4 linked regions of the Homo sapiens genome follow. The protein of the gene in region 4 purifies or fractionates together with the protein of the main gene of each other region. This does not show direct contact. Each region holds a gene or a part of one and is shown on either strand. Other genes may lie near its edges.

Region 1 (7,689 bases), about 41 Mb from region 4:
AAATGAGAAGTATCTTGTGTTTCCTCTGGTTTTTCTAGTCTGACTTTGCTGTGATGTAATCTGTCTGAGGTTTTGTCTGTCTTCCTCTGTGTGTGTGTGCGTGTGTGCGCGCGCACTCGCGCATGTGTGTGTGTGGTAGACATTGCCTGATAGATTGCATCTTACGAGAGATCTCTGAGTGGGAACCAGAACAGTACTCATGCCCTGATAGTCCTTTTCATTGAGTAATTTTTATTTATTTATTTAAATAGGAGTGCAGTGGTGCAATCTTGGCTCACTGCAACGTTCGCCTCCCGGGTTCAAGCAATTCTCCTGCCTCAGCCTCCTGAGTAGCTGGGACTACAGGCGTGTGCCACCACACCCAGCCAATTTTTGTAGTTTTAGTAGAAATGGGGTTTCACCATGTTGGCCAGGATGGTCTCGATCTCTTGACCTCGTGATCCACCTGCCTCGGCCTCCCAAAGTACTGGGATTACGCGTGAGCTACTGCACCCGGCTGAGTGATTTTTTTTTTTTTTTTTTTAAGATAGAGAAAGTCCCTCATACTGAGGAGCCTTGCAGTTGAGAGAGAACAGAATTCCAGTTGGAGGATCAAGGAATTTGAGGGAGGCAGCATGCTTGCAGTGTTCCTAGGATTTTTACAGGAACTACAATAGAAAGTTAGGGATGAAATTATATTGAAAGGAGAAAGCTGGACTGCTCAGGTTTGGAGGTCATGGGGAATTCCAGGATTCAGTATGTGGTTGCTCTCTTATTTTTAACTTCTGCTTAGCAGTAAAACCACACCCTTCCTTCTTCCTGAAAGTAATGTTTAACTTCCTCTCCCTGCAGCATTACACTCTATGTAATGGGAGTGGGGTGGAGGAAGAGTCTCCCAAGGTGGTTGGATCTCACTATTCTACTGGAAGAGGAGCAGGCAAATATATTTTTATGTGGTATAATGTCATTAGATTATTTCCTGCTGCTTAAGACAGAGCAACTTCTGGATGACATTTTGGAATGTATTCTGTGGCTCTAATAATTGTTGGTAAAGATATTGAGCCTTCTGTTTTCTTGAGGGGAGTTGGGGTGCTTGTTTTTGTACTTGGAAAGGGAGACTCGTATCTCTTGCTTTTTTCTTTAATTAAATTTCTGTTTTTTACATTAGGACATGATAGCCATCTTGCTTCTTTCTTTAAAAAGCTGCCTGGAATGGGAGTTTCCAGTGGTAGTACTGCATGAAGATTCATGAGACTATAAAGCTCTTTGGAAACCCCCCAACTTAGCCCTTCCAACTTTCCTTACATTTTTATGGCTTTCCAAAAAGGTTGCATGTAAGGGAAATTATCTAGGTCTGTGCTGTTTATTCAGCAAATAGTTTTTGAGCACCTGTTATGTGCCAGGCACTGTTCAAGGCACTAGACTAAACTAAACTTATCCCAAAAAACCCTCTGCCCTCGTGGAGTTTACGTTCTTATGTTCCAGAGACCCTGTCTGCCAGAGTTCCAGGCCTGATTTTCAATTTTGAGGAAAGTGCTAAGACTAAAGAGTGAATGGTTCTTTTATGAGTACTGACACAAGGACTCCAGGCCACACATATCTTCTTGAAAGCCCTTTTCCTGTTTGAAAAAAAGATCGTTTGTATTTGATAGAGCAAAAGAAGGCCACAAAATGAATTGTCTTCTTGTGGGCTGTGTTTCAGAACGGCCGGTTTGTGGGCGATGCTGACCTTGAAAGACAGAAATTTTCAGATTTGAAACTCAACGGACCCCAGGTAATTCTTTGGCTCAAGACCTGGGTTGCTTCATTCATATTTTCTTATTTCCCCAGCCTATAAGAGCATATTTGTGTCTTGTAAGGTGCCTGGCACATTGTACATACTCGTCAATTAGTTTCTTTTATTTACGAAAACAAAGAAGTGGAGCTCCAAAGTATATATGCAGTTTTGTTTTGGAATGAATTTTAATGACCATTGATCTTTATGACTATTCCTCCTCCCCACTGCCACCCCATTTGATCCCTAAGTACTGCGTTTCTTTTCTAGAGACAGTAGGCTTCTACTTTGCAGCAAAAAACCCTACCTAAAATCTGGCTGGTCTTGAGCCTTTTAGACGGTATCTGAAGAGTAACATAAAGCCAGTCAAAAGATGGCTCTTACTGGGATTTTCAGGTTTGTCTTAAAAGTTCTTTATTTTTGGCCAGGCATGGTGGCTCATGCCTGTAATCCCAGCACTTTGGGAGGCTGAGGTGGGCAGATCACCTCAGGTCGGGAGTTGGAGACCAGCCTGACCAACATGGAGAAACCCCGTCTCTACTGAAAATACAAAATTAGTCAGGCGTGGTGGCACATGCCTGTAATCCCAGCTACTCGGGAGGCTGAGGCAGGAGAATTGCTTGAAACCAGGTGGCGGAGATTGTGGTGAGCTGAGATCATGCCATTGTACTCCAGCCTGGGCAACAAGAGCAAAACTCTGTCTCAAAAAAAAAAAAAAAGTTCTTTATTTTAGACTGGGCACGGTGTCTCATGCCTGTAATCCAACACTTTGGGAGGCCAAGGCAGAGCAAAACTCCGTCTCAAAAAAAAAAAAAAAACAAAGTTCTTTATTTTGGCCAGGCGTGGTTTGCTCATTCCTGTAATTCCAGCACTTTGGGAGGCTGAGGCTGGAGGATTGCTTGAGCCCAGGAGTTCAAGACCAGCCTGGGCAACATAGACCCTGTCTCTACAAAAAAAATAAAATTAGCCAGGCATGGTGGCGTGAGCCTGTAGTTCTAGCTACTCAGGAGGCTGAAATGGCAAGATTGCTTGAGCCTGGGAGGTTGGGGCTCCAGTGAGCTATGATCATGCCACTGCACTCTAGCTTGGGTGATAGAGTGAGACCCTATCTCAAGTAAATAAATACAAGTTATTTATTTATTGGGTGAGCTGCTCTTTTGAGGGATCACTCAGATATAGATGAAACTGCATTTAACACAGTTCATGTTCACTTAGATGACCACAGCTGGGAAGTTAAATCTACTGTCTGTCACTTGGATGTTGATGTGGCTATAGTTAGTTCATGTTTGTTAAATGACTACAACTGGGAAATTATGTCTACTGTCCTTTTGTACAAGTTCAAAAGATGACAGCCACCCATCTAAAAATCCTGAGGCCTATAGAAGATGCATGAGGAGTCCCTGTCTCCAGGTTTACCACTTATGCTTCTTATTAGGATGGCTTGTTATACATAGCACTTAATAGTAGTTTCTTCTCTTTTCTCTTTTGCATATAGGATCACAGTCACCTTCTATATAGCACCATCCCCAGGATGCAGGAGCCGGGGCAGATTGTGGAGACCTACACGGAGGAGGATCCTGAGGGAGCCATGTCTGTAGTCTCTGTGGAGACCTCAGATGATGGGACCACTCGGCGCACAGAGACCACGGTAAACTAAGACGTGTGTAAGATCTGGAAGTGATAAGAGGTCTTTTCTTCTCTATTAGGGGAGGGGTTAAGCACTTAATTAAGATGGAGGACTGATATGCCATTATTGATCTGATTGCATGAAGTGATCTCTGGCCAGATAGAAAGGATGAAGAGATGGGAAAATCTTATGGGATAGGGAAGACAGAAGGTATATCAGGGTCTATAGTAGCTTCCCTTATAAGCATAGTTACTGTCAGGGCAATTTTCCTGCTTGGGGACTTCCTATAGGATGGAAAGAAAGATAGATGGTAGGCTTTAAGGCATTCCTAGGTAAAGTGACCTAGGGATATAAAGATTTGTTTCTTTTGGAGTGGTATAGAATTTAATTGTTCATGGCTGGGCGCGGTGGGTCACGCTTGTAATCCCAGCCCTGTGGGAGGCTGAGGTGGGCGGATCACGAGGTCAGGAGTTTGAGACCAGTCTGGGCAACATAGTGAAACCCCGTCTCTACTAAAAATACAAAAAATTAGCCAGGTGTGGTGGTGTGTGCCTGTAATACCAGCTACTCGGGAGGCTGAGGCAGGAGAATTGCGTGAACCTGGGAGGCAGAGGTTGCAGGTGAGCCGAGATCACGCCATTGCACTCCAGCCAGGGCAACAGTGCAAGACTCCATCTCAAAAAAAAAAAAAGAATTTAATTGCTCACTTCCTTAATTAGTTTTTCTTTTTCTTGTTTCCTACTTGCAGGTCAAGAAAGTAGTGAAGACTGTGACAACACGGACAGTACAGCCAGTCGCTATGGGACCAGACGGGTTGCCTGTGGATGCTTCATCAGTTTCTAACAACTATATCCAGACTTTGGGTCGTGATTTCCGCAAGAATGGCAATGGGGGACCTGGTCCCTATGTGGGGCAAGCTGGCACTGCTACCCTTCCTAGGAACTTCCACTACCCTCCTGATGGTTATAGTCGCCACTATGAAGATGGTTATCCAGGTGGCAGTGATAACTATGGCAGTCTGTCCCGGGTGACCCGCATTGAGGAGCGGTATAGGCCCAGCATGGAAGGCTACCGGGCACCTAGTAGACAGGATGTGTATGGGCCCCAACCCCAGGTTCGGGTAGGTGGGAGCAGCGTGGATCTGCATCGCTTTCATCCAGAGCCTTATGGGCTAGAGGATGACCAGCGTAGTATGGGCTATGATGACCTGGATTATGGTATGATGTCTGATTATGGCACTGCCCGTCGGACTGGGACACCCTCTGACCCTCGTCGGCGCCTCAGGTAGGCAAGAATAGGGGAAGAGAAAAGGGTCTTTCCAAGACCAGGGACAAGGGGTAGCTTTTCCTTCAACTTCTAGGGGCTTTTTGGGATCAGAGATACTCGTGGCCTCCTCCCCTCTGCTTTTTTTTGGGGTGAAAAGCTACCCTGTTTTTCCCTTTTCTGACTTGGCTTAGTATTGACTTGCTATATATATATAATATAAATATATATATAATTTTTTAAATGAAAATAATATAATTTTATTTTTTATTTTTTTGAGACAGAGTCTTGCTCTTTCACCCATGCTGGAGTACAGGGGTGCCATCTTGGCTCACTGCCACCTCCGCCTCCTGGGTTCAAGTGATTCTCATGCCTCAGCCTCCCTAGTAGTTGGGACTACAGGCAAGCACCATCACGCCTGGCTAATTTTTATATTTTTAGTAGAGATGGGGTTTCACCATGTTGGCCAGGCTGGTCTCAAACTCCCGACCTCTGGTGATCCACCCGCCTTGGCCTCCAAAAGTGCTGGGATTACAGGCGTGAGCCACCGCGCCTGGTCCACAAGTTGTTTTCTATAATTGAATATATGGGCCAGGCGCGGTGGCTCACGCCTGTAATCCCAGCGCTTTTGGAGACTGAGGTGGGTGGATCACCTGAGGTCCGGAGTTCAAGACCAGCCTGACCAACATGGAGAAACCCCGCCTCTACTAAAAATACAAAATTAGCTGGGCGTAGTGGTGCATGCCTGTAATCTCAGCTACTCGGGAGGCTGAGGCAGGAGAATCATATGAACCCGGGAGGCAGAGGTTGTGGTGAGCCAAGATCATGCCATTGCACTCCAGCCTGGGCAACAAGAGCGAAACTCCACCTCAAAAAAAAAAAAAAAAAAAAACAACTTGTGATTGTTATTAGTCTGTGTCCTGAAGAATGAACTTTGCTTCTGCTTCTATGCTGAAGTTTTTGCTGTTTCTGGCTAAGATGTGACCCCCTTTTGGTGTGTTAGGCAGAGGATTCTGATGTCTGGGGCCATGGAATTCTTGCTCACTTCTTCCTGGGAATTTCTTTAGTTTCTGATTTGGTATTAAGAACAGAGTCCATTGGGCACGGTGTCTCACGCTTGTAATCCCAGCACTTTGGGAGGCCGAGTTGGGCGGATCACGAGGTCAGGAGATCGAGATCATCCTGGCTAACACGGTGAAACCCTGTCTCTACTAAAAATACAAAAATTAGCCGGGTGTTGTGGCTCGTGCCTGTAGTCTCAGCTACTCAGGAGGCTGAGGCAGGAGAATCACTTGAACCCGGGTGGCAGAGGCTGTAGTGAGCCGAGATCCCGCCACTGCACTCCAGCCTGGGTGACATAGTGAGACTGTCTCAAAAAAAAAAAAAAAAAAGCCAAAAAAACCCCAAAACAAAACATAGTTGAGGGTTTTAGGAATTCAGAACCAAAAGAGACAGTTGAGGACGTGTATAAGAACTTTCTTGTGTTTTTAATCCCAAAGTTAAAAACAAACTTTGACCTCACAAGGGCCTTGACATTCTATGCTTAGGGTCTTATTATTTGATTGTAAAGTGAAATTGTGGTGGCATCCTTGGGTGGGGGTCGGGGGATACATTAGCAACACTCTGAAAGGTCACTAAGCAGCTGCCTACTCTGACTTTACTACTTGTTCCTGGAGATTCTTTGGTGATGTGAAAAAAGGAGTGATTGATGTTTGGACTGGTACATGGTTTGCCTTGTTGCATTGAGAGAATGCTTTAGAATGGGGTCGACAGACCCCTGAAAATGACCACGTAGAACTATTTTAGGCTTTGCAGGCCATGTATCATCTTTGTCGTATGTTGTTCTTTTTTTCAAACAATCTTTTAAAAATAGCATTATGGGGATGTACAAAAACAGGTTTGGCCCATGGGCTGCCAATGCTGCTTCAGAATAAATTAGAAACAGTGTTTTCCAGGTAAAGAGAAATGATAAGAAACAAGGGATGATTTATGGTTGTCTTGATGGTAAGGATATCCTAGCAGCTGTTGCTGAATTTCTCTATATGGGGTCATGACCTTTTAAAGCAAATGCCTTGGTGCTCATTTTCCTCATATATTAGGTAGCTTTGGTTAAGAGTGAACAGGGCTGGGCCCAGGGGTAGAGGCCCCATTATCTAAGACTGAGTCACTCACCTTTCAGGTGTCTTGGATAGCTAATCCAACTCCCATGTGACTCATTTTTATTCCTACAGGAGCACCAGACCTCGGCTGGTGCAACCTAGAGCAGTGGTAGATAACAGCCTTCATTGAAGCAGTCTGTCCAGGGTGTTGGCTCTACTGCAAGTCTGCTTTTTCTGACTTCCTCATTAGTAAAGAGTGATTGGACCCAGATGGGTGTGGGTGGCCAGGTCATTCTCTGCCATCCCTAGTTGTGCTAGTTCACATAGAGTTTTGGGCCTGGTTCTTGGGTTTGTTCCAGGGTAGCACTGGACTTGGAAACCTGCTTGACTAGCAAGCATATTTGCTGCTTCCTGTTCCAGGCTAGAAGAGTAATACAAGGTCAAACTTAAACAGTGAGGCAGTGATTAGTGGAAAAAGCACTGAACCCTGAGACCTTGGTTCTAGTTGTGCCTTTGCCACTAGCTAAGTAGCCTCAAGCAAGTCATTTGGTCTTCCCAGGCACAGCTTTGTTTCTTGTAAAACAAAGGAAAGAATGTCCAATCCACTGCCTTTGTATAGAAAAGGATATAGGATAGAGTTATCTGGAAATTTTGGTTATGGTAATTGTTCTTATAATTTTGTATATTAATAATAGAGGTTAAACATGTTCAATACAGAGCCTGAAAAACCCAGAAAAGCATTACCATCTATTGATAAAGAACCACTGTTAACATTTTGGTGCATATCCTTTGAGTTTTTTTAATTATACATGTAACTATATCCTATTTTCCCTCTACTAAAATGGAATCTTAACATACTGCTTAATAGCCTACTTTTAAGCTATCTAAGCTATTCATTTTGTTTCCGTGTTTTTTTTTTTTTTTTTTTTTTTTTTGAGATGGAGTCT
Region 2 (7,599 bases), on a different chromosome or scaffold from region 4:
ACCCTGTCTCAAAAAAAACCAAACACCCCCCCACCAGTCTCCCCACAAAACCCCAAAACCAAACATAGAAGTTGCCCTTTCTTTTACCCTGTTTTCCTTTAAGTCAAGGTACCCTCTCTCTTTCCTTTTTATTGATACACTTCTTATATTGCATTCTGAGTTGAAAGCCTATCACACTGCTGAAACTGACGTCTGGAAGATCACCCATAACTTCGAAATGCCAAATTCCAGTCTCTTCTCCTACTTGAATACCTCTCTTGCATGAACTTCTTTACTTACCTTTCTCAATAACCCCACAATGATCCCGTTTTTACTCCTCATCTGTCCTTTATTTCTCACAGTTTGTTCTGTAGTCCTCTTAGCAAACTTTCATCTATGAGGATGATTCTTAGCTCTGTCTCTAGCCCTGATTTCTTTTCTAGGCTTCATTTCCAGTTGTTTGCTAGACATTTGTATGTGTGTGTGGATTTACCACATGCTTTTTTAAAATTTTTTTTGAGACGGAGTTTTGCTCTGGTTGACCAGGCTGGAGCACAGTGGCGTGATCTCTGTTCACCGCAATCCCTGCCTTCCGGGTTCAAGTGATTCTCCTGCCTCAGCCTCCCGAGTAGCTGGGATTATAGGCGTGTGCCACCACGCCCGGCTAATTTTTGTATTTTTAGTAGAGACAGGGTTTCTCCATGTTGGTCAGGCTGGTCTTGAACTCCTGACCTCTGTTGATCCGCCCGCCTCAGCCTCCCAAAGTGCTGGGATTACAGGCGTGAGCCACCGCGCCCGGCATCACATGCTTCTTTAAAATATCAGGTTCCAGAGTTAATTTATCATACTCTTCTTCTAGGTCCTCCTCAAATCCTTCCTGTCTCTTGTCCTTTCCATTTCAGCTAGTGGCATCACCTCATTTCCATTATTATTATTATTATTATTATTTCGAGACAGAGTTTCACTCTTGTTGCCCAGGCTGGAGTGCAATGGCACAATCTCGGCTCATTGAAACCTCAGCCTCCTGGGTTCAAGCGATTCTCCTGCCTCAGCCTCCCGAGTAGCTGGGATTACAAGCATGTACCACCATGCCCGGCTAATTTTTGTATTTTTAGTAGAGACAGGGTTTCACCATGTTGGCCAGGCTGGTCTCGAACTCCTGACCTCACGTGATCCGCCTGTCTTGGCCTCCCAAAATGCTGGGATTACAGGCATGAGCCACCGTGCCCGGCCTTAAACGGGTGATCTTTGAGAGAACAATTCAGTAGAGTTGCTAGTGGTATCAGTGAATCTTGGAGAATTCAGGAAAGAATTGCAGGAGAGGAATTTGGTTCCAAATCCACTTTTTTTTTTTTTTTTTTTTGAGATGGAGTCTCGCTCTGTCGCCCAGGCTGGAGTGCTGTGGCTAGATCTCAGCTCACTGCAAGCTCCGCCTCCTGGGTTCAGGCCATTCTCCTGCCTCAGCCTCCCAAGTAGCTGGGACTACAGGCGCCCACCACCACACCCAGCTAATTTTTTGTATTTTTAGTAGAGACGGGGTTTCACCATGTTAGCGAGGATGGCAAATCCACTTCTTTGATGAAACCTGCAATTTACCTAAAACTTTCTCTATTATCCCATTTCATAAAATAAAACTTCTCTCTTTAACATCTATCAGTGTTATTTCTTCTTTCTGGGTATTATATTTGCTATAAATTCTGTTTTTGCTGTATTTATAAACTGGCCAATTTTGCCATTTCTTTTTTGAAAAAATTTTATTATTATTATTTTTTATAAAGATGGGGTCTCACTGTGTTGCCCAGGCTGGTCTTGAATTCCTGGGTTCAAGCGATCCAACTCCAGGGCTCAAGCTATCCTCCTGTTTTGGCCTCCCAAAGTGCTGGGATTAGAGGCATGAGTCATCACGCCTGGCCCTGTAGCATTTCTTAAGGAGAGGGATCACCTGTCTTCTGAACTCTGGAAAAAGACCAGGGTGTCGCCTTTGTCACTTGTGCCTGGATGTACCTCTCAGACTGAGTGCTTCCTTGAAGAACAGATGACGAAGGCGGTGACTCAGAGGCTCCCACTTATCCTTGTAATTCGTGTTCATGGTGCTGGGTAACCACCCAAATTGGTATTTACTACAAATATACTAAGTATCCTAATTGCTAAGGTGTTATCTAGGGGAGTTTAGGCGCTTCCGCCTTTCCAATATCTGAGTCAATTTAATATCCCACATTAAAAAAAAAAATCTCCTTACAAACACTTGGTGGGGGCGAGCGTGGTGGCTCACTCCTGTAGTCCCAGTACTTTGAGAGGTCGAGGCAGGCGGTTCGCTTGAGTTCAGGAGTTCAAGACCAGCCTGGACAACATGGAAACCCCATCTCTACTAAAAATGCCAAAATTAGCCCGGTGTGGTGGTGGGCGCCTGAAGTTCCAGCCACTCAGGAGGCTGAGGTGGGAGGATCGCTTGAGCTTTGGAGGCTGAGGCTGCAGTAAGCAGAGATTGCACCACTGCACTCCAGCCCGGGTGACAGAGTGAGACTCCGTCTCAATGAAAAAAACAAAACTAAAGCAAAAACAAAAACAAAAAAACCCAAAACAGGCTGGGTGTGGTGGCTCACGCCTGTAATCCTAGCCCTTTGGGAGGCCAAGGTGGGCAGATCACTTAAGGACAGGAGTTCAAGACCAGCCTGGTGAAACCCTGTCTTTATTAAAAAATACAAAATATTAGCCGGAAATCAATTGAATCTGGGAGGCGGAGGTTGCAGTGAGCCGAGATTGCGCCACTGGACTTTAGCCTGGGCGATAGAGCAAGACTCCGTCTTAAAAAAAAAAAACAACAAAAAAAACCCAAACCAAAAACCATCCCATGGGAGTGTCTCTGAACCTATTCTGGTTCAGGAGGCTGCACAATAAAAGAAAAATAAGAAAAAATTTTTTAAAAAAAAGTCTTTTAAAAGCCACCCAGTGTTCAGGAGGTGCGCTCCTGGAAGGACATTTCCTCTTCTGTCCCCACCCCCACTACATGTTTTTTGCTGTTCCTCCCCAGGGAACAGGCCGGTTTGATGGCCCTAATCCTTATATACAGCTTGCTCTGGAATGCAGAGACTTTGCATCCCAGCTGAGGAGCTGGTAAGTGGACTTTACTCTGTAGGACCCACACCTAGCTTTTGAAGGCTTGGGGAGGGGCGGAAACCAGCTCCCGAGAATACACCGGAATCTGTGCTGCATCGAAGATTCCTCTTCTACTCCAATAGATACAGGGTAAATATTTGTTGTAACTAAATGAGAACAAAATCCGGAGCCCAGCAACGTAAACGAAGTCAATCTCTTTTTTACATATCTCAACGGTTAACAGCTAGGATGCCAGCTTTAATGTTGTTTTAACTGCAGCTGGTATGAGCGGTCCTGCAGTTTGCAGAGCCCCTAGTTTTTACTCTTTTCTAGGAACTGGGATCAGCATCCCTACTTTTTGAGAGGCTAACTCTGAGGTAAATTTACAACTGAGTCCCTTTCAGTTTAGAACGAAGGTCATTCCTATTTTGGTAAATTTGCGTCCCCGGTTTCCATTCATTCAGTCAACAAATATTTATTAAGCATGTAGTATGTACCAGTCCCTGTTGTAGGCGTTTGGGGTGAAGCAAGGCACAGAACAAGAGATCCTTGCTCTGGTGAAGCTTATCGTAGGACGGGAGGCAAAATGATGAAAATGATTTTTAAAATTATGTTATTAACTAGAAGGTGATAAATATTACATAGAAAAAGATGTCAGGCTGCAAAATGATTGCGGAGGCCACAAGATAAAAGAGAATCCAAGATCAGGGTTCTGGTTCGGGTCAGGGAAAAGGGAGACGAGCTGAGGTGCAGGAGGCTCTGACGTCGGGGGACAACGGAGATATTTTCTGCAGAAAGTGACGAAAGAGCATTCTGGTTCCTGCAGAGGTAGGTGAAGGACAGAAAGGGCCCTGGCCGGCGATTCCCTTGGAGTAAACGGGAGGCAGGAGGCTGTTTTCTAGCAGAGCCCAGAAGATGCTCTGGCCGACGGCTCCCGGGATCTTGGCCGGCGGTCACTCGCGACCATCCGCGACGCCCCCAAAATGGCCTCCGCGCCCCTCGCCGCCCCGCCCCGACGCTCCGCAGCCCGTGGGTCCACGTGACCTGGCCCGCCCTTCGCGGCTGGAGACCCCGGGTCCCGGTCCCCGCACCGGAGGCCCCGCCCCCTACGGGAAGCGGACCAACCGGAGCGGGGAAAGGCGGGGCGGGCACTGACGGCCCGCGGGGGTGGAGCTCCGCAGCGGAGTAACAGGTTGGTGGGAGGGAGAGAAAGGAGGGAGCTCCGAGGACGAGGGGGAGGGCCGGAGCTGCGCGTGCTGCTTTGCCCGAGCCCGAGCCCGAGCCCGAGCCCGAGCCCGAGCCCGAGCCCGAACGCAAGCCTGGGAGCGCGGAGCCCGGCTAGGGTGAGTGGACCCGGTGCGGGCCAGGGCACCCGAGAGGAAAGCGAGCCTTCAGGGGTACCTTTGAGGGGCAGGCATCGAGGCGGTGTGAGATGCCCCTCTCCAGGGCACCGGTGCCGAGTGGGAGACGGGAGGAGGGGAGATTGGGGCGGGGTGGGGTACTGATTAAGAGCCGACCCCTACCCTGAGGTGCCAGATGCAGGTGGCTAGGAAGGTGCCAGGCGAGGGGCACCTGGGGCGAAGGCTGTTCCCAGCGCATGAAAGCGTTTCAGCGCCAGATGTCTCTGGAGGTCAGACGCCAGCCCTAGGGGCAGAATTTCTCTTGGAGACAGCGGTGGCGCGGGGAAGGAGTTAGTTCCAGCTGAGTCGGGAACTGCTGCTGCCTGAGGTGCAGACTCGCCAGGGGAGGGCATCTGCAGGTGCTGCTCGCCTGAGGGTCTTTCCTGCGTCCTGCGGTCTCAGCTGGCCGTTGTCAGCACCCTGGTGGCTTTGAGATGACTCTGAGGTGTGGGATTTTTTCCCCAGCCCTTCACCTCCGGCCGAAGGCAGTTGCGAATCAGAGACACTGAGGGGCAGATGAGAGGGCACCCTCATCTCTTCACCAGGTGTACAACCATTAGGCTTTCACTTTGTGTCCTTTGCTTTCGTGCCAGGGAGAATCGTTCCTTCTTCCTCTTGAGAGAGAGAGAGAGTACTCCCCAAGAGAGGGATATGAGGAAGCAAAGAGCCCTGCCTGGTCCTGCAAAATATTGATAAATATTAATACTTATTTCTCAGGAGGCCCCTTTCTGGGGGCGGATGTCAAACCCTTTCTCCAAGTACCCACATATTTTTTCTGTGGTTCTAGATGGGGACCATTGGATGAGGTTTGGGAGCCCAACCAATTTCCTTGATGTCTGGAGGAATCCCCATTACTCCCTGAACGCCCTCCAGGCATCCCTGACTCCTGAACTGCGGTGGCTGTCAGAATGGCAGCAGGCACTATTGGGGCAGGAAATAGGCAGGACTCATCAGGAGACCACGAGACTAGGGAAATTACAACTCCAAATCCCCAGGACAGATGAAAGGTGCACCTTGGGGCCCAGACAAGACTGGAGGCAAATTTCTTTGCCTTAGGCAGGTAAAGGAACTAGAGTCAACCTTAGCTTGGCCCCTTTGAAGCCCTGCCTGAGGAAGGTTGTTGTAATTGGGAAATAATTAGCAACCGCTATGTTTGTAGATGGGCTGCCTACACATGCCTATGCATCTCTTCTTTCATCCTGGATGTTTGGGAGTCTGGGGGCTGGCTCTGGGGGACTGCTAATCCAGAGATTTGCCCGACTCTAAGAGGATTCTGGCTTCCTAGAACCCTTCCTGTGTTTCCCAGGCTGGCCTGCATGCCATTCCCCTTGTGGGAGGTGATGGGGGTGTAGGGCTCTTCTCTTTGTGCCAGGGAGGGGCGGACTGAGGACCAGGGAGGTGGCCAAAGCAAGTGTGGGATCAGGAATGCAACTTTGGGAACCTCAAAGGGAGGGGTGGAGGGAGACAAAGTCTCCCTGTCACATACTGGCCTGTCACCAGGTTCCTGTTCATCTGCTCCTCCTGCCTGTTCCCTCCCTGCCCTCTGTCCTCTCCTTCAGAGCTTTGGCTTTGCCATCAAGGCTGGAGAGCCCCTGCCTGTGGTCTTGCCCCTCTGCCTCCTCCGTGGTGTGGAATTTCTCTGGTCTGCTTTACAAGCTGCCAGTGTAGTTTCCCCGGCCCTCCCCTTCCCCTTGCCTCTCAAACCAGTCCAGCCAGTTTGCAGGGGCCCAGTTCCTCATTGTGTTTTTTTCCCTACTGGCCAAGCAGCTGTAGCCTGGCTCTCAGGTTTCTGCTCTTTCAGCGGACCTGGGCAGGAGTCCACTTGGGGGATTCTTTTTGGATCCACGGGGAACCTTCTTATCTCTAACTATGAGAAAAAGGGTGCCAAATCATCAAGGTCACTGAGCTGTCCTTTTCTATTTCGACCATTTGCTTTCCTTGTTTCCTCTGAGGGGATTCTAATCTCTATACCTCAAGTTCTCCCGTTTTCTAAATCTGCCAATTATTTAGCATCAAGCATATTGCCTGGCCCTATGTGAATCAGTCCTTCCTCCACACACCCGAAACCACCCCACCCCCACTTCCTGCCAGAAGTCCAGATACCCTGTCACTCCTAGTTGGAAACCAGATGCATATGGCTGGGCCAGAGGTGATGGAATTGGGGCAGGGCAGGCTAATGAGTAACTCAGGGAGAAGTGGCTGTCTGGTACAGGTGTAGAGTGTTCTCCCACTCCTTGCAGGCAGGAAAGGCAGAAGCAGACAGATGCACCTGAATCAACTTGTGGTCTGGTCTCTTCCTGGAGTACAGTTGGTGAGGAGAGCCCTGGACATGTGATAGGGGAGAGAAAAGTAGGGTCAGGCATTGGTGAGGGCGCAGGCCCTGGACTCCATGTTGCCTGGCCCTTGATCACTGTTTACCTGCCTGTCTCTGGGGCTTACGCAAGGCCTCAGAGCTGCCCTGCTGCCTTGGTCCCGCCCCACTGTCCTCTGTAACCAAAGGCGGGTAGGTTTCGGGTTTTCCATGTTGAATCATTTAGAGCCCTGCTTTCTGACCCACCCCAAAGATCCCTTCAGCCCTCCTGGCCCCTGATCCACATGTCCTTGGACTGAAGGTGATTGAGGTTAGGGAGTTAACCTAACCTGGGACCTGGGGGAGTGTTCAACACTGCCTCTGAATAATTTAGTGCTGTTGCTCAAGGGTCTGTGCCCTCTGCTGGGCCTAGGCTGGGAACTCCTTGACCTGGATCTGGAAGATCAGTAGATGTACTGACAGGGTAGACTGCATCATGAATAAATCATATGGCTTCTGAGAGCTGGCAATCTAGGCACTTCTGGTTCTAAGATCATGACTACATAGGGCAGCAAGTCTGGACCAGGAGGAGGTCCTGTTGCTAAGAGGTCCTGTTACTGAGGCAAAGTAGATTTGTCCTGGGCAAATCTCCCCACTGCTGTGCAAGTGGGCTTTAGTTCAGGATACAGCCTTTAACAAATATTTGTTGACATCTACCACGTGTCCAAACACCTGGGGACACAGTGGTTAGCTGCTAGCCATGGTCTTTGCCCTCCAGGAGCTTATTATCTCGTAGGGGAGACAGACAGGAAATAATTACTCCAATAAATGTAT
Region 3 (8,489 bases), on a different chromosome or scaffold from region 4:
GGTGGAGGTTGCTGTGAGCTGAGATCACGCCACTGCACTCTAGCCTGGGTGACAGAGCGAGACTCCATATCAAAAAAAAAGAAAAAATAATTCAAAATACATGTTTTAAAATTTCACTTAAATGATATTATTTTCCACAGTGAAGAAGTCCAAGAAGGTGATTTTAACAAATAAAAACAACTTAAAATGATGTTTCTAATAAAAGACATGTATTCATTACTTTTTAGTAACACATTCTTAGGCAGAGGTTTAAATCTATTTTTGACTAGGTGTGGCAGTTCATGCCTGTAAGCCCAGTGCTTTGGGAGTCCAAGATGAGAAGATTGCTTGAGGCCAAGAGTTCAAGACCAGCCTAGGCAACATGTGACACCCCATCTCTACCAAAAGTTTTTAAAAATTAGCCAGGTGTAGTGGCATGTGCCTGTCGTCCCAGCTACTTGAGAGGCAGAGGCACGAGAATCACTTGAGTTCAGGAGTGTGAGGTTGTAATGAGCTATGATTGTGCCACAGCACTCCAACCTGGGCAACAGAGTGAGACCCTGCCTCAAAAAAAAAATTATTAAATGGAATGACTTCAAACTGATGACTTAACCAAATATTCAACTTGAGAGTCATGCTTTCTAATGCCAATTTTTAATTTTTCCAAAGCTTTTATAGTGCATTCTATTAATTTTTTAATTTTCTGAATGTTGGTTGATCTTAACTGCAGTGCAACTGAAAGTAATGAAAATTATTTAAGAATATCAATCATTAAAGTAAGGTATTACAAGAAATTAATATTAGCTGATCTTGTTGCTAGGCCAGAATAAAAAGAATGAGAAAAATGCATTTATAATGTAGGATATGTGTGCCATGCAGCATTAGCGGTTGGTAAAGTACATGTCCACCCATCTCAACCTAAGTACTTGGCTAATTTTAATAATTTCAGTTTCAAGTTATTTAGCTATAATTTCCAACTGTTTCCTTTTTTTGGGTTGGTGGTAAACAGAATAAATTTTATCCATAATATTGTTATTTTTTCTTGAGACGGAGTCTCACTCTGTCTCAGGCTGGGGTGCAGTGGCACAATCTCAGTCCACTGCAACTTCCGCCTCCTGGGTTCAAGTGATTCTCCTGCCTCAGCCTCCCGAGTAGCTGTGACTACTGGCGTGCACCACCACGCCCAGTGAATTTTTGTATTTTTAGTAGAGACAGGCTTTCACCATGTTAGCCAAGCCAGTTCTGAATTCCTGACCTCAAGTTATCCGCCTGCCTCGGCCTTCTAAAGTGCTGGAATTACAGGCATGAGCCACCGTGCCCAGACTATCCAGAATATTTTTAAATGATTGACTTGTTTTATTTCAGATACTGAATTATAATTGGTAACAGAACCAAATGATGACATTAGGAAATTTTTCTGACAAATCTGTGGCCACTCCAGTCTTCTTTCCCATTATTGTGAAAGCACCATTAAAACAAAATGCAGCTTACTTTCAACTATTCATTATTAAATTTCAAATATTCATTACTGAAGCCACATTTAAAGTAGACAATATCGGCTGGGCGCGGCGGTTCACGCCTGTAATCCCAGCACTTTGGGAGGCCAAGGCTGGTCGATCACTAGAGGTCAAGAGTTTGAGACCGGCCTGGCCAACATGGTGAAACCCTGTCTCTACTAAAAATACAAAAATTAGCTGGGCTTGGTGGTGCACGCCTGTAATCCCAGCTACTTGGTTGAGACAGGAGAATCACTTGAACCCAGGGGGCAGAGGTTGCAGTGAGCCAAGATCGTGCCAGTGCACTCCAGCCTGAGGGACAGAGCACAACTCTGCCTCAAAAGAAAAAAAGTAAAATAGACAATAATGTAGTAGAAATATAATCTGTGTGGCAGACACCAATTACTTTTTTTTTTTTTTTTGGAGATGGAGTCTCGCTCTGTTGCCCAGGCTGGAGTGCAATGGTGTGATCTCTGCTCACTGCAACCTGTGTCTCTGGAGTTCAAGCGATTCTCCTGCCTCAGCCTCCTGAGTAGCTGGGACTACAGGCGCACACTACTACACCTGGCTAATTTTTGTATTTTTAGTAGAGATGGGATTTCACCATGTTGTCCAGGCTGGTCTCGAACTTCTGACCTCGTGATCCGCCCACTTGTGATCTGCCCACCTCAGCCTCCCAAAGTGCTGGGATTATAGGCGTGAGCCACCGTGCCCAGCTGACACCAATTCTTTTAAAGCAACAAATATCTTTACCAGTACAGAAGCTTATTCAACTGTGTACTGGAGATAAATCTCTAGGTAATTTTCTTCCAATATGTAGATGTCTCATCAATTATAGTGCATATTTGCCATTCTCTTCCAAGATTCTTAAATATGTTGACATAATTTCTTTTGCAGTATGTTCTGCTATTCTTGTTGCACCGTATCATGTATGTAAACATTTGCCTGTATCTACTCCATTTTTCCCTTTCAACTCTATTGTTCCCTTCACTATCAGATAAAGGCCTATGAGTTTTTTGTTTGAGACAGGGTCTTGTTCTGTCGCCCAGGCTGGAGTGCAGTGGTGTGATCTCGGCTCATTACAATCTCCAACTCCTGGGCTCAAGGCATCCTCCCACTTCACACTCCCAGGTAACTGGGATTACAGGCACACACCACCACACCCAGCTTTTTTGTCTGTTTATTTTATTTGTTTGTAAAGACAGGGTTTTGCCATGTTGGCCAGGCTAGTCTCTAACTCCTGGCCTCAAGTGATCCCTGCCTGGGCCTCCCAAAGTGCTGGGATTACAGGTGTGAGCCACTGCACCTGGCCCATGCCCATTCTTTAAGTATTGTCTATGGCTACTTTGGCACATTTGGCACTACAGTGAGAGCTGAGTAGCTGTGACAGAGACTATAAGTCCCACAAAGCCTAAAATATTTACTATTTGGCTGTTTACACAAAAGGTTTGCTAACATATGGTCTAGAAAAATCAACAAAACAATAAATCACGCCCTGACTTGCTGCATTTGCCCATTTCCATGGTGTAAATACTCCCCTTACAGCCAATTTCGTGCTACCAATGTGACATTTCTGAATAGAGTTGGGAAGAGATGCATACAACATATGTAGTATTTCCACAGGGAATACAATGGACAAATAACCTCAAGAGCAGAATTATTAGTAAAATGAAGAAAAAAACTACAAAGTGATGAGTTTTTAATATTTATTATATTTAAAAATTTTTTTTTAGAAATAGGGTCTCACTCTGTTGCCCAGGCTGGAGTGCAGTGGTGTGATCATAGCTCACTGCAACATCAAACTTCTAGCCTCAAGCCATCTTCCCGCCTTAGCCTCCCAAAGCACTGGGATTACAAATGTGACTCAACATGCCTGGCCTATTACTTTTATTTTTAAGATAATTTAATTGTAGCTTATATAATTTGATTTCTAATAATGGTTGTGCTTATGACCTGGCTCATAAAATCCCTGAAAATTTAGCAATCAACCTAATGCTAGCTCTATCTTCAAAAGGAGGCTTTGGGAAAGCAAGTAATTTTTGTATCCACTAAAGCACAGAGCTAAAAAAAATTGGGGGGAGGGGAGACATCTATTGAGGGAACGCCACATGCAGGGTAACGTATTTTCTGGAGTACTATCCTGTATTGATATTGTATGCTCTTTAGCATTCCCATGCTGTCTGCCACTTTTGCTGGAGTCTTGATACTTGATACTGTTAATGCAAAATAAGTAGCAGGCCATTAGTTTGGAGTTGTTTTTGTACCCAGAAAGCAACCCAAAATTTAGAGGTATTCCTTGCACCTTTTGTTTGTTTTGTTTTTTTGAGATGGAGTCTCGTTCTCTCATCCAGGCTGGAGTGCAGTGGCGAGATCTCTGCTCACTGCAATCTCCACTTCCCGGGTTCAAGTCATTCTCGTGCCTCAGCCTCCCGAGTAGCTGGGATTACAGGCACTTACCACCACGTCCGGCTAATTTTTGTATTTTTAGTGGAGACGGTGCTTCGCCATGTTGGCTAGGCTGGTCTCGAACTCCTAACCTCAGGGGATCCGCCTGCCTCAGCCTCCCAAAGTGCTGGGATTACAGGTGTGAGCCACCGCGCCCGGCCCCTTGTACCTGATTTTGAATGGAGTTTCAACCAATCACAAACAGACAACCAGCCAAGTGGTTATATAATTAGGGACCTCCCATGTGACCATACCCAAATAAGGCAAACGCTTAGCTGTAGCCAATCAAATTTCTTTACTTTCGTGTTCAGCCTATAAAGTTTGATGCCTGGGCAGCTAGAGCAGGGGTGTCTGAGCCTCTTTTGGTTCTGACTGTTGTCCGATTCAAAATCTAAGTTTGTTTTGTCTGAAATTTTTATTTCTACAATACCTATCCAGAAATCAGTCTAGGCTGGATATTTGAAGGAAGAAGGGAATAACTGGCTGGCATATTCATCACCTGTTGGAAATCTCTCTTCTCACACATTTTCATTAACTTCTTGAGGAAGTGTAATTACAAGCGTTTTCCCACGAGCAGCCCCTACTAATAACGCATCAAGCTGCATGAATTCCGAAAAGCTTCAGAAAACTTGTGGTCTGAAACCCTACTATGCTTGAGGTACAGGAAAGAAGGATACTATCAAAAGGCATCATGCAGCTGGCACGGAACTGGGACAAGAATTTGGGGGCAGGATGGCCAAGTGCTAGGCCAATTGACGGTCTCCAAACCATTAGCACAGCTCCTATTCTGAATGGAGGAGTAAAAACAGCTGTTGGAGAACTTGGACGTCATCTGCCCTTGTCAAACCGTTTTCAGGATTAATGTACTTAATTCAGCTTTTTCCACTACACCACACAGCCTCCTGTAAAACACCCTCCCTGCACACAACTTACCCCCAAAGCACCAGGAACCTAGCTGGCTAGAGTTGAGCTTAGGAAAAACCTGAGTGGCTCCAGAGTCAAACTGCGATAACGTTGAGTCAGAGGAGTTAAGGACAAAGTAGAGCTGCACAGAGGCCCACGTCGTGCAAGTGCGTGTCTCCTTCAGAGAAAAGCGTGCCGAGGTAGACTAGGCCCCGGGCAGCAAAAACCCTGTCCCGTCGCCAGCGCCCCGCACCGCCAGAGCGACTGGAGCAGACGCGAGCGCTGGGCACGTAGCCGGTGGCGCGCACGCTCAGCCCGAGGCCGCACGGGAGGCTGTCTGGCGTGCGCGCCCCCGCGGCGGTGGGCGGGGTCCGGGGCGGGGCCGCAGGAGCAGTAGGTGTTAGCAGCTTGGTCGCGACAGGTGCGCTAGGTAGAGCGCCGGGACCTGTGACAGGGCTGGTAGCAGCGCAGAGGAAAGGCGGCTTTTAGCCAGGTAAGGGCCTTCTCTCTCCACAACCGGAGAGTGCGGGAAGACCCCGGCTTCTCTCCACACCCTCTTTCTCCTTCGACTTTTGGGGCGGGGGGAGTGCAAGGAGTGTGAGTCCCTCCCCCTCGAGATAAGGGGTCGAGGGACGCTGATCCTCCGTTCTTTCCTCACTTCTGGGGCCTGCGCTGGGTGGGGAGTGCTTATGTCGGGCTGAGCCTTTGCTGCCCAAGGGCGGGAGCTGCAAATACCCCGTCCTCTCCCACCGAGAACACTGCATTCTAACTGTATACTTTCTGGTGTGGTGGAGGAAGGTGACAATTCATTAAAACTCCAAATACCCTCCTTCCAGGGAAATACTGTAATATTCAACTGTTCTTTTTCCTTCATTTTCAGCCATTCCCTCTCTTTTCGATTTTTTCTCCCTTCCATTACGCCAGCTGAACTCTGTTTAAGACACTTACACCCTTTTGAGGAATGTTGAGAATATAGCAGTCCTTGCAGCCGATGTGTCATCCCCGAATCGCTATCGTGTATATATCGCTGGCACTTGCCCCCGACATATGTTGGTGTTAATGTAAGGTAATTGTACACCCCTGGCTACACATACTAAAGCTTGAAGTTGTAGCTGCTAGGAACGAACCATCTGGCACCCTTCCTAGCCTCCTTACTGATGCTTGCAAGAACGGTTTAGCTGATCCTGGTGAGAGATATTTGAACTACTATTGTCTTGCACCTAATTCCAGCTTTCAAAAGTCTGCCTTGGACGGGCGCAGTGGCTCACGCCTATAATCCCAACACTTTGGGAAACTGAGGCGGGAGGATCGCTTGAGCCCAGGTGTTTGAGACCAGCCAAGGCAACTTAGCGAGACCCTTGTCTCTACAAAAAAATAAATAAATAAATAAAAATAAAAGATAAGTCTGCCTAATCCAGATCTGCCTAATCCAGATGGTTCAATTGACTTGACTTTTCAGGTTAGTCAAAGGTAATTAGGGAGTTATCAGTTTTTAAGGCAATGCCCATTTTGGGGAGAGGTTTTCTTTTGCATTAAGTATTCTTTCTTTTGCTCTTGATTTAAATGGTTTAACACAGTACCTTTTATCTGCTTGGTTACCAATACTATTCACAAATGCTAAATATTTCAGGAGCCATGAAATAACACCAATCCTTTCTTCTGAGGTATGATGTAGACACAAAAGAACATGACCCCTAACAACATGTTCTAAGTTCCTGTAGAGGTATAACCTGGGTGCAGGATGATCACGTTTTAGATAGATCTTCAAAAAATTATAGAGTTGGCGTGAAAGAAGGCAAAAAAAAGTGTGTGTTCATATATGTTTTCTTGTTTTGCATTGATAGAACAACATATAATGTACTAGGTAATTAGTTTAGGAACTTATTTCATTCTTTGGACAAAATATTGAGTGCCTTTCATGTCAGTCCTACTGTAGATTCAAAGTGCCAAACGTCTTTACCCTAAAAGAACTTAAAATCAAATGGGTTAGACAGATCCACATACAATTTATGGTATTAGTGAGGTCATTTCTATACTAGAGGTCAGCCCAGGGTACTGTAGGAGCATAGGGAATATAGGTGTTTTGTTTTGTTTTTTAATTCTCTCTTCTGCTTTTCCTTAAAAACAAAAACCTCTGAGTAATAATGAGTGATTCTCTTCAATCTATGTATTTGTATCACTTTCATATTTCTTACCCTCTCTTCCTCCAATTCTATGGCCTATGGAAAATGGGATTAGACCCTGTTGTTAATGTGGCATTTAGTAAATAGTTGGATCTGTTTCCACTGTTCTGTATTGGGCTGGGAAGTGTTGTTATCAGGTAGTCCCTGGGAAGAGAACAGTATATTGGCAACATTAGCAAAGGAGTGCCATTTTGTAAAAATTACCTCATTGTATAACTTTCTTTAACTTGGTACACTCAAGCTTTGTTCCAGACTCTGGTTAAAGGTGGGGCTAAATTTCAACCTAATAATTCTAAAAGAAAGCTTCAGAAGCTAAAACAATTCACATCTTGGTGACAGGGGATACTTTTTCCTGCTAAGATGCCCTCAAAATGTTTTTCTCTTTCTTTTTTTCTTGGGTGGGGAAGACAGGGTAGATAGGTGGGTGGGGAAAAATGTTTTTAAGTATAATTTTGACTAGTGTTTCTTCAGGTTTCAAATTCTTATATTTTCTCTGGTATTTTTCACCAGTTAACTGCAATTAACTTAGAGCCCTCGTACCAAAAAAATTTATCAAAGACACACACACAGACACAAAAGAATATTGAGAGTGTGGGAGTTCATTAGACATCTTTGGCATAATAGGGCACCTAACCACAAATTGGAAGAATTTATTATTTAAATTGACAGTGAAACTAGTTTCAGGCATTCTTAATTCCATACACTATTAGATAGATGACTTTTAGATTAGAATTGTACCCTTTCTGCAGATAGGAAAATGTATAACGAGTCCTAAGTTAGTAATTTCCATTAGAAAAGGCAATTGTTTTTTAAGTTTGCTATTGTCTTTCACTGTATGTTTTTTGATAGAAACTTAAGGTACTTCATTTTAGATTGCATACAGTAATCTCCAGGTGAGGTTACTTAACACAGCCTCTTCAGGTTACTAACAAACCAGTGGTTGTAAATGAAGTAGTTTCTACTTAATGATTATGGAGTTGAGAGTCTATGGTGGATGATAAGGTAGGACCATACTGATGAGTTTATTCTGAAGCTGGGTGCAGAGTCCTCAAGACTCAGTCAAATTATTGTGCTACTGAAGACCTCTTTTCATAAAAAGGATGGAGTTTGACCTAACAAGCAATCCATTATTCAGCATGTCAGATGATTTCTTGACACGTGAAAACTTTCTAGAGACTTCCTGTGTCCACTCATAAGAAGTTAACATGATACCATGAAAATTTTACATTCTTTTGATGTTCTTTTAAATAATTTCTTAATACTACTACCCTGGGCCGGGCGCGGTGGCTCACGCCTGTAATCCCAGCACTTTGGGAGGCCGAGGCGGGAGGATCACGAGGTCAGGAGATCGAGACCATCCTAGCTAACATGGTGAAACCCAGTCTCTACTAAAAATACAAAAACAAAATTAGCCGGGCGTGGTGGCAGGCGCCTGTAGTCCTAGCTACTCGGGAGGCTGAGGCGGGAGAATGGCGTGAACCCG
Region 4 (7,689 bases):
TGGCTGATGGCGAAATTTCGCACACTGGCCAACTTGGCCTGGTGCCGCCTTAACCGGGTGAGAAGCAACGAGAGCTCCTCCAGCTGCAGATGTGTAGACACAGCACAAGGAAGTTAGCACCGCAGGAGCACACTGCTAGAATTACGCTCTTCACCCCGGTGTCAGTGCCAGGACAGCACTGATGTGACACCGTTAAGCAATTACTGTGTCAATTCTGTCATTAGGACAAATAAAGGCACTGGCAGTAAAAGGGCTTCAGGAAGTTTTTTTCAGGAAAGCAACAACCAACAGTGCAACCTCACCCAGACTCAAGCTTTTTTTTTCTTCTGCTTTGAGACAGTCTTGCTTTGTCACCCAGGCTGGAGTGCAGCAGCGTGATCTCGGCTCACTGCAAACTCCACCTCCTGAGTTCTCGTATCTCAGCCTTCCGAATAGCTGGGATCACAGGAGTGTACCACCACACCCAGATAGTTTTTGTATTTTTAGTAGAGACGGGGTTTCGCCATGTTTGCTAGGCTGGTCTTGAACTCCTGGCCTCAAATGATCCACCCACCTCGGCCTCCCAAAGTGGTAGGATTACAAGTATGAACAACCACACCTGGTCTCAGACTCGAGCTTTGAAGATTGAGTTAACTAGTTAACTAATCAAAGATCAGGGAAGAAAGGAGAGGCACTGCCTGTGGAAAAAGGTGGGTAGCTGAAAAATGTTTCTGGCAAAATTCATCTTGAAAGAGGAGATAAGCCTAATATTCCCCTACATTTCCCTGATACGCTCTTCCCCTTCACTGGGGACCCAGTGACAGCCAGGTGACCCTAAGCAAGTCATTCAACTTCTCTGAGCCTCAGTTTCCTCATCTCTAATATGGGGGTTAATAGCTGCCCTCTGGACTGCATTGTACTAACTCAGAGGAAGGAAAATGTTGATGAGATAGGGCTTTGCAGGCTATGTCTTGTCATTCACCCTACCGATTTTCCATGTAAACTGGGAGCGCTGACGGTGTGGGTCATGTAACCCATGGAGGGCATGGAGCGTCGGTCCACATGAGATGAGTTCTGCAAGTGGGGAGACAAGAAGTCACACTGGAGCCCAAACCTCTGCCACTCACTCCCAGGGAAGCCGCCCCATGCCATGTCCCCTCTGAGCCCCAGACTTCTCATCTATGAAATGAGCACACACATCTTACTCTCAGGGTTAGAACACTAAACTGTGAAAGCCTCTTGGAAAGTGAAAACTTAAGCTGGATTGTTATAATTTAACTGACTGGACACAGATGTCTTTTCCTGCCTTTCAAGATGCAAGGAAGCTGACTTGTAGTTGTGTGACCCTGTGCAAGTTACTTTGTCTCTCAGCGCCTCAGAGTTCTCATCTTTGAAATGGGCATAAACATAGCACCTACCTCACAGGGTTGTGGTGAGAATTTAAAGCGAAGCCCTTGGGAACTGTGCCTGGCATCTATTATTAAAATGTACTGCCTAAGTATTAGCTATCATTATTATCCCAAATTACTCAAATTTGTGTTCAAACCAGGCAAAGCTCCTGGCGCCCTCATGATGACCCAGCAGCCTGGCAGAGCTTCCCGAGCCTCACCTTGACAGCGTGGCCCCGTGCCCTCCTTGGAGAATCCCCCAGCGAGATGTCCACACTCCTCCTCTGGTCCGGTGGCTTCACTGTGACTCGCTCTGCTGGTGTGTGTGGCCGCCGGGGTGGGAAGACCCTTGGGGGTCCTGGGGGAGGGATGTCCGAGGGAGATGGAGGCACAGAGATGGAGCGGGGCACCTCTAGCATGCTCCTGCTCCGGCCCTGGTCGGTGAACTCTGGGGAGCCAAGGCAGATGGGCGCTGTGGGGCTGCCGTGCCGGAACTGCTGGCGCTGCTGCCACTCGTAGAGCTGCCACACGGTGCCATCCCGGTGCGCCCGGCGCTCTTCACTCGACATCTTCAGGTGGCTGGCTCGGTCCTGCGCATACTTGTAGTCACTTGGCAGGTTTCGGGGAGGTGGCGAGGAGCCCCCCGAGGGGTGTCGGGTGCTCTTGGGAAGAGTCTGGTAGTTTTCTGGGAAGGACAGGGATTGGCCAGGACCCTGGCGAGGAAGCGTCTGGTCCAAGGGAAGACTGAGGAGAAAGGGTAAGAACGGGTCAGGCAACCAAGCGAGGGTTCTGCAGGCTTTGGGGAACATATCTAAGTAAACCCACAAAGCTGGGCATGTGGGACAGTCCTGTAAGAACCTCAAAAGAATGATCAAGGCCGACATCCAGGACTTCAGTCACTTCCCCTTTTGGCAGACGACTCCAAAACCATTTTTCTCTGTCAACTTCCTCTGCCAGGACAACTTGGCTACCCCATGCCCATCACTTGGAGTGCAATGTGATTAAACCTGGCTTTTCCTTCTCTCTCCGCTGCCAGCAGTCAGCTCTTTCAATGGCTATGCATATTTATAGGAAAGGCCTCACAATTCTCCAAGTTACCAAGATTTTCTCTCTGCCTGGTATCCTTAGCACCAAGTTCCAGAGGTTCATAAAGGAAGTGGTTGGCATCAGTTCTCTTTTTTCTGGACTCTTCTAGTCCAGATACTGATTAATTATCTCCCTCCAGACAACTCTGAGATGCTCCTAATGGGTTTCCACTTTGTCCACAGTCAAGTGCTCTGATCATATCAGTTCCTTGCTGCAAAAACTTCCATGGCTCCTTGTCCCTTCTGAAATAAAGTCTAAACTCCTCAGCCTGGTACTCACAGCTCGCTAGCAGCTGACCTCAACACCCACCTTGCAGGCCTGCTGTTTTCTCACTGCTCTTCCTACGGGCCACGCCAAATGCCTAGGGCCCAAAACTGAAGGAAGTACTCCATCTCAGGGTCACCCCTACACCTGCTGGTGCCTGACAGCCTCACCCTAGTCCCGTCCCAGCCTCCTCCACACCTTAGCAACATCTTGCAACGGAAAAAGGAAAAAGGAGTCTAACCTGGGTTTGAAGCCAAGCTTGACACTTGCTGGCTTTGTGACCCTAGGCAGCTCACCTGACTGCTCTGACCTTCCGTTTCCTTACTTGTAACAGGAGGATAGTATTACCTGCCTCATAAGGCTCTTCTGAGGAATCAATGAGACAGGTTAGGAAATGCAACCCCCACATCTGATACACAGAAGGTCCTTCACTAACGTGTGTACCCTTCCTGCCCTTCTTACTCTTATAACACTGTTCTTCCCTCCCCCTGCCTGGATGGTCTCCCCTTGCTCTATTTACCCAAGTCTTACTCATTCTCTAGGATGCTGGCTCATGCCTTCCCCCACGTGGACCTTCTGTAGTGCCACAGCCCTCAGTGATCCAACTCTGTTTGACCTCGTCATCACACTGCCTGTAACTTTTCCAAGGTCCTATATTGATGTGATCTTTTCATACTTCCAAGACATGTTTTCCCAGGCCAAGGTGAAAAATTCTTGAAAGACAGGAACTGTGTTTCACACCGTGGTATTGTCCACAGTCTAAGAAAGTCCTGTGCGTAATTAGCCCTTCAATAAACACTCCAGCACACAAAACTGGATATGACTTCAAAAACTAACACCAACTAGCCATCTTATTTTCTTTCTTTTTTTTTTCTCTCTTTTTTTTCTTTTTTGAGACAGAGTCTTGCTCTTTTGCCCAGGCTGGAGTGCAGTGGTGCAATCTCTGCTCACTGCAACCTTCGCCTCCTGGGTTCAAGTGATTCTCCTGCCTCAGCCTCCTGAGTAGCTGGGACTACAGGCGTGTGCCACCACACCCGGCTAATTTTTTGTATTTTTAGTAGAGACAGGGTTTCACTGTGTTAGCCAGGATGGTCTCGATCTCCTGACCTTGTGATCTGACCGCCTCGGCCTCCCAAAGTGTTGGGATTACAGGAGTGAGCCACCATGCCTGGCCGCCATCTTATTTTCTTCTGGAGTCTCGCTGTTTTGCCCAGGCTGGAGTGCAGCGGTGCAATCTTGGCTCACTGCAACCTCCGCCTCCCGAGTTCAAGGGATTCTCCTGCCTCAGCCTCCTGAGTAGCTGGGACTATAGGTGTGCACCACCACGCCTGGCTAATTTTTGTATTTTTAGTAGAGACGGGGTTTCACCATGTTGGCCAGGCTGGTCTTGAACTCCTGGCCTCAAGTGATCTGCCCCCCTCAGCCTACCAAAGTGCTGGGATTACAGGCATGAGCCACCGCACCCAGCCTCCAACTTATTTTCTGAGAAGGAAAAAAAATTAAGCAAGGGACAAAGTATGGAATTTTACTAAGCCTGAGAGGCAGCATGATGTTGTAAAAAGAGAACAAGTTTTAGAGTCAGACAGGCTTGAGGTCAATTCTGACTCTGCCTTCACCTATCAATTTTATCTAACATTTATTTGGTGCTGATATTGTGCCAGACATTGTTCCAAGCCAACACTACTCAAAGTGTGGCCTGTGTGCCACCAGCATCAGCACCACCTGGGGACTTGTTAGAAATGCACATTAATGAAATAAGCCAGGCATGGAAAGACAAATACCGTGTATGACCTCACTTATATGTGGGATCTAAAAAGGTCAAACTCATAGAAGAACAGAGTAGAGAGGTAGTTACCAGAGGTTTTGGGAGGGAGAGGAGAGATGGAAGAAGAGCTGTTGGTCAAAGGATGCAAAGTTTCAGTTAGGAGGAATAAGTTCTGGTGACCTACTGCACAGCATGGTGACAATGGTTAATAATAATGTATATTTCAAAATTACTAAAAGTAGATATTAAATGTTCTTACCACCAAAAAGGATAAGCAGGTAAGGTGATGAATGTCAATTGGTTTGATGTAATCATTTCATAATGTATACATATATTAAAACATCACATCTACCCCATACATATAATTATTGTCAATTAAAAATAAGATATATTTTTAAAATGCTGGTTATCAGCCCCACCTCAGACCTACCTAATCAGAAACTCTGGGGATGGTGCCCAGGCATCAGTGTCTTAACAAGCCCTCCAGGAGATTCTAGTGCTCTGTAAGGTTTGAGAAACTGTTCTAATTGTTTTAAAACTCAACTCATTTAATCACTTTAGCTATATGACCTCAGGCAAGTATCATCCAGGCCCTCTAAGTCTCACCTTCCTTATTACAAAATGGGGATAGTAAGAACCACTTAGAAAATTGCTGTGAGGATTTGAAATAGTTGTCATTCAAATAAAGCTATCTTTGCCATTACAGTAGATAATTTTAAGATCTCTTCAACCTACTTGTCGTGCCTGCCAAGTGAGTCGGCCTGCCACTAGGTGGCAGGGTTTGCTATCGATCTCCCAAAGTTAGACACAAATGTGCCTCTGAGACGGGGCAGTGCCTGAATCCTCAAAACAGAGGTGGTAGCGGTGGCAGAAACCAGGCTGGAGGCTTCCCCTGGGGAGTTCAGGACTTGACTAACCATTGTTCATTCTGCCAGAAGCAAAATGCAAACTATGCAAAGCATTTCAGAGCTGTGCTCCCACCCATACGCCCTTCCTGCCTGGCTCTGCAGCTCACTCCCCTTGCCTGCCTACAGTGCCTGGAAGGTCAGAGTCCACCCTCACCTCCCCACTGCCCCACTAGCTGCACCTCAAATCCCTAAGCTCATCCTCTAACCTGTACCCTCCATTTACACATAGTCTGCCATTCTGGAATGACCCCAAGGTACCAGTGCAATGGTGAGCCCTGGCTCTAGGGGTCAAAACAAGGTAACTATGGAGGAGGGACACAGGAGGAGGTGGTACTGTGGTTGAGGTATAGACCCCATGCGAGCAAGTGGGTGCTTCCAGAGCAGCTTTGCCCCTAACAGCAGATCCATTTGCTGGCCCCCTAACCTCCGGTCTTACCCAAAAACTGGGCTCAAGGTCTCCTTATACCATGCTCTGTGGCCACAGGGACTCCCTGTCACTGAACAGGCACTAAACAGGATATTCTGATACAGCCATTACAGAAATGGTCATGTGGAGATGCAATATCATTTTTTGCAACAAATTATTATACTTTACTCAGCAGATGTTCCTCACCCTAACTTCCAGATCAATCACACAGGACTTCCATTTTCTACTCTGTTCCTTATTGTAGTGTTTGAGTCTCCTGATCCTAACTCTATCCCTCACCCCAACATTTCTATTTTACAAGTATGCATTACTTTAAACACTGGGAGGTCAGGGTGGGAAAATGAAAGCCTAAAATTTCAAAACAAGCTCTTAAAATACAGTGAGATTCTAAGAGTGTGTCAGTCTGTCTCCCACAAACCATATCCTAAAAAAGTTTAATGTGAAATTTGTATCTCCAATTAGAAATACTTCCCTGTTGGTTTAAAGCCAAAAATACAGGATCATATTGCAGTTCAAATAACCTTCCTCCCAATGTCTTAATGTGCTCAGTCTAATGAGATTAGCAGTCTTGATGATATGCAAAGCAGAGATATCTATCTCATATATTTTCAAATGGAAAATGGAGGAGTTCCTTTATTCAGCACCTAGATCTATTTATGACTAACTGTAAGAGACTACAAATATATCTTTAAGAAAAAAAAAATCTGGGACTATAAGAGGCAGACCTTTTAAAATACAAGAGGATAATCAGAGACTGAGACACTTTGCTCACTTAAAGATTGACAGCATTTTCTGTTCTGTCTTCTGCCTTCAATTCTTCACTTTTATTCACTTTCTAGCCCATTGAGATCTGCTTGCCCTACTGGAATGAAATTCCTCTCACTGTGTGCTCAGTGACCTCTAAAGCCAATGAGCTGTTCTCCTCTACAGACCTGATGTCTCCCTTCCCCTTAGATAAGAATGGCTCAAATCCCCATCTTGCATCCCAGGGAAAGTCCTATGCCCTCCCCACCCACCTCTCATTTCCCTGTTAACTTCTCATCCTTTAGGTCTCTGGTGCACACCCCACTCCCAACTCTCAAATTCAGGCCGTTGTGTGTAGCAGAATAACATGGTTTACAGGCTGCTGGAGCAGTTATGCGGAGACATTTCATAACTGACAACTTATCACTGCATATCAGTCACCCAGCTTTTGAAAGTTTTTTCTGTGCCCCTGCCACAAAGAGTTTCTCACTGGCCATGCCGTCTTACTGATTTCAACCCCTCCTTTTACTCTGCGTCCTGAGCTAACTTTGACCCTGTAGCTCTGTTAAGCATGGTAATTCAGGTTTGCCCATCTAAGCCCATCAAGCAGCTCAGTGGAAAAAGGGTTTCTGTTACTGAGCAAAAGACCCGTGAGGTTCTGGACTTTCCTTCAGGGGTGCCCAGCCTCCTTGAAAGGTACCACATCTCAAGTGTCTGCTTTTGGTAGGGGAAAAAAAAAAAAAAAAAAAAAAAAGGAAAGAAGGCACCACGCCCAGGTGGAAGTCCTTACCTGCAGCACCGTGCACTGCTGACTGGACTCCTTCCAGTTGAAACTCTCCCCAACAAAACCTCCAGTTTTCCTCCCCCATCTTCTCTTCATCTCCTTCAGGTGACTTAGCTTTTGCCTGACCCTTAGGCTAGGGGTCCTCAGTGTTCTGTTGTTGGCCCTCTGCAACTGTGCTCTCTCAGTTGAGGATTCTTAGTCCTGGCTGCACATTAGATCACTGGGGGAAGAGGGATAGGGGAAAATGTGCTTCCTAAAACCCTTATGTCCAGGCTGCAACCCAGACCAATGGAGTCAGATTTCTGCGCAGGGGACCAAGGCCTCACCAAATGTTAAAACTCTCC

What was found.
Region 1: the proteins of PLEKHA7 (region 4) and CTNND1 purify together in Homo sapiens (co-immunoprecipitation; 2 studies listed by IntAct). This does not show direct contact.
Region 2: the proteins of PLEKHA7 (region 4) and CGN purify together in Homo sapiens (affinity purification with mass spectrometry; 2 studies listed by BioGRID and IntAct, with this or other methods). This does not show direct contact.
Region 3: the proteins of PLEKHA7 (region 4) and LIMA1 purify together in Homo sapiens (affinity purification with mass spectrometry; 2 studies listed by BioGRID and IntAct, with this or other methods). This does not show direct contact.

The regions. Positions count from the first base shown.
Region 1 is NC_000011.10:57,792,329-57,800,017, forward strand, and holds part of CTNND1 (catenin delta-1), read left to right. Parts: intron 1-1,681; coding exon 1,682-1,753; intron 1,754-3,248; coding exon 3,249-3,401; intron 3,402-4,128; coding exon 4,129-4,664; intron 4,665-7,689. UniProt on the Homo sapiens protein: Key regulator of cell-cell adhesion that associates with and regulates the cell adhesion properties of both C-, E- and N-cadherins, being critical for their surface stability.
Region 2 is NC_000001.11:151,507,098-151,514,696, forward strand, and holds the start of CGN (cingulin), read left to right. Parts: upstream 1-4,289; 5' UTR 4,290-4,418; intron 4,419-7,599. UniProt on the Homo sapiens protein: Probably plays a role in the formation and regulation of the tight junction (TJ) paracellular permeability barrier.
Region 3 is NC_000012.12:50,280,247-50,288,735, reverse strand, and holds the start of LIMA1 (LIM domain and actin-binding protein 1), read left to right. Parts: upstream 1-5,215; 5' UTR 5,216-5,316; intron 5,317-8,489. UniProt on the Homo sapiens protein: Actin-binding protein involved in actin cytoskeleton regulation and dynamics. Increases the number and size of actin stress fibers and inhibits membrane ruffling. Inhibits actin filament depolymerization.
Region 4 is NC_000011.10:16,815,212-16,822,900, forward strand, and holds part of PLEKHA7 (pleckstrin homology domain-containing family A member 7), read right to left. Parts: intron 2,112-7,689; coding exon 1,589-2,111; intron 1,054-1,588; coding exon 967-1,053; intron 84-966; coding exon of another isoform or gene 1-83. UniProt on the Homo sapiens protein: Required for zonula adherens biogenesis and maintenance. Acts via its interaction with CAMSAP3, which anchors microtubules at their minus-ends to zonula adherens, leading to the recruitment of KIFC3 kinesin to the junctional site.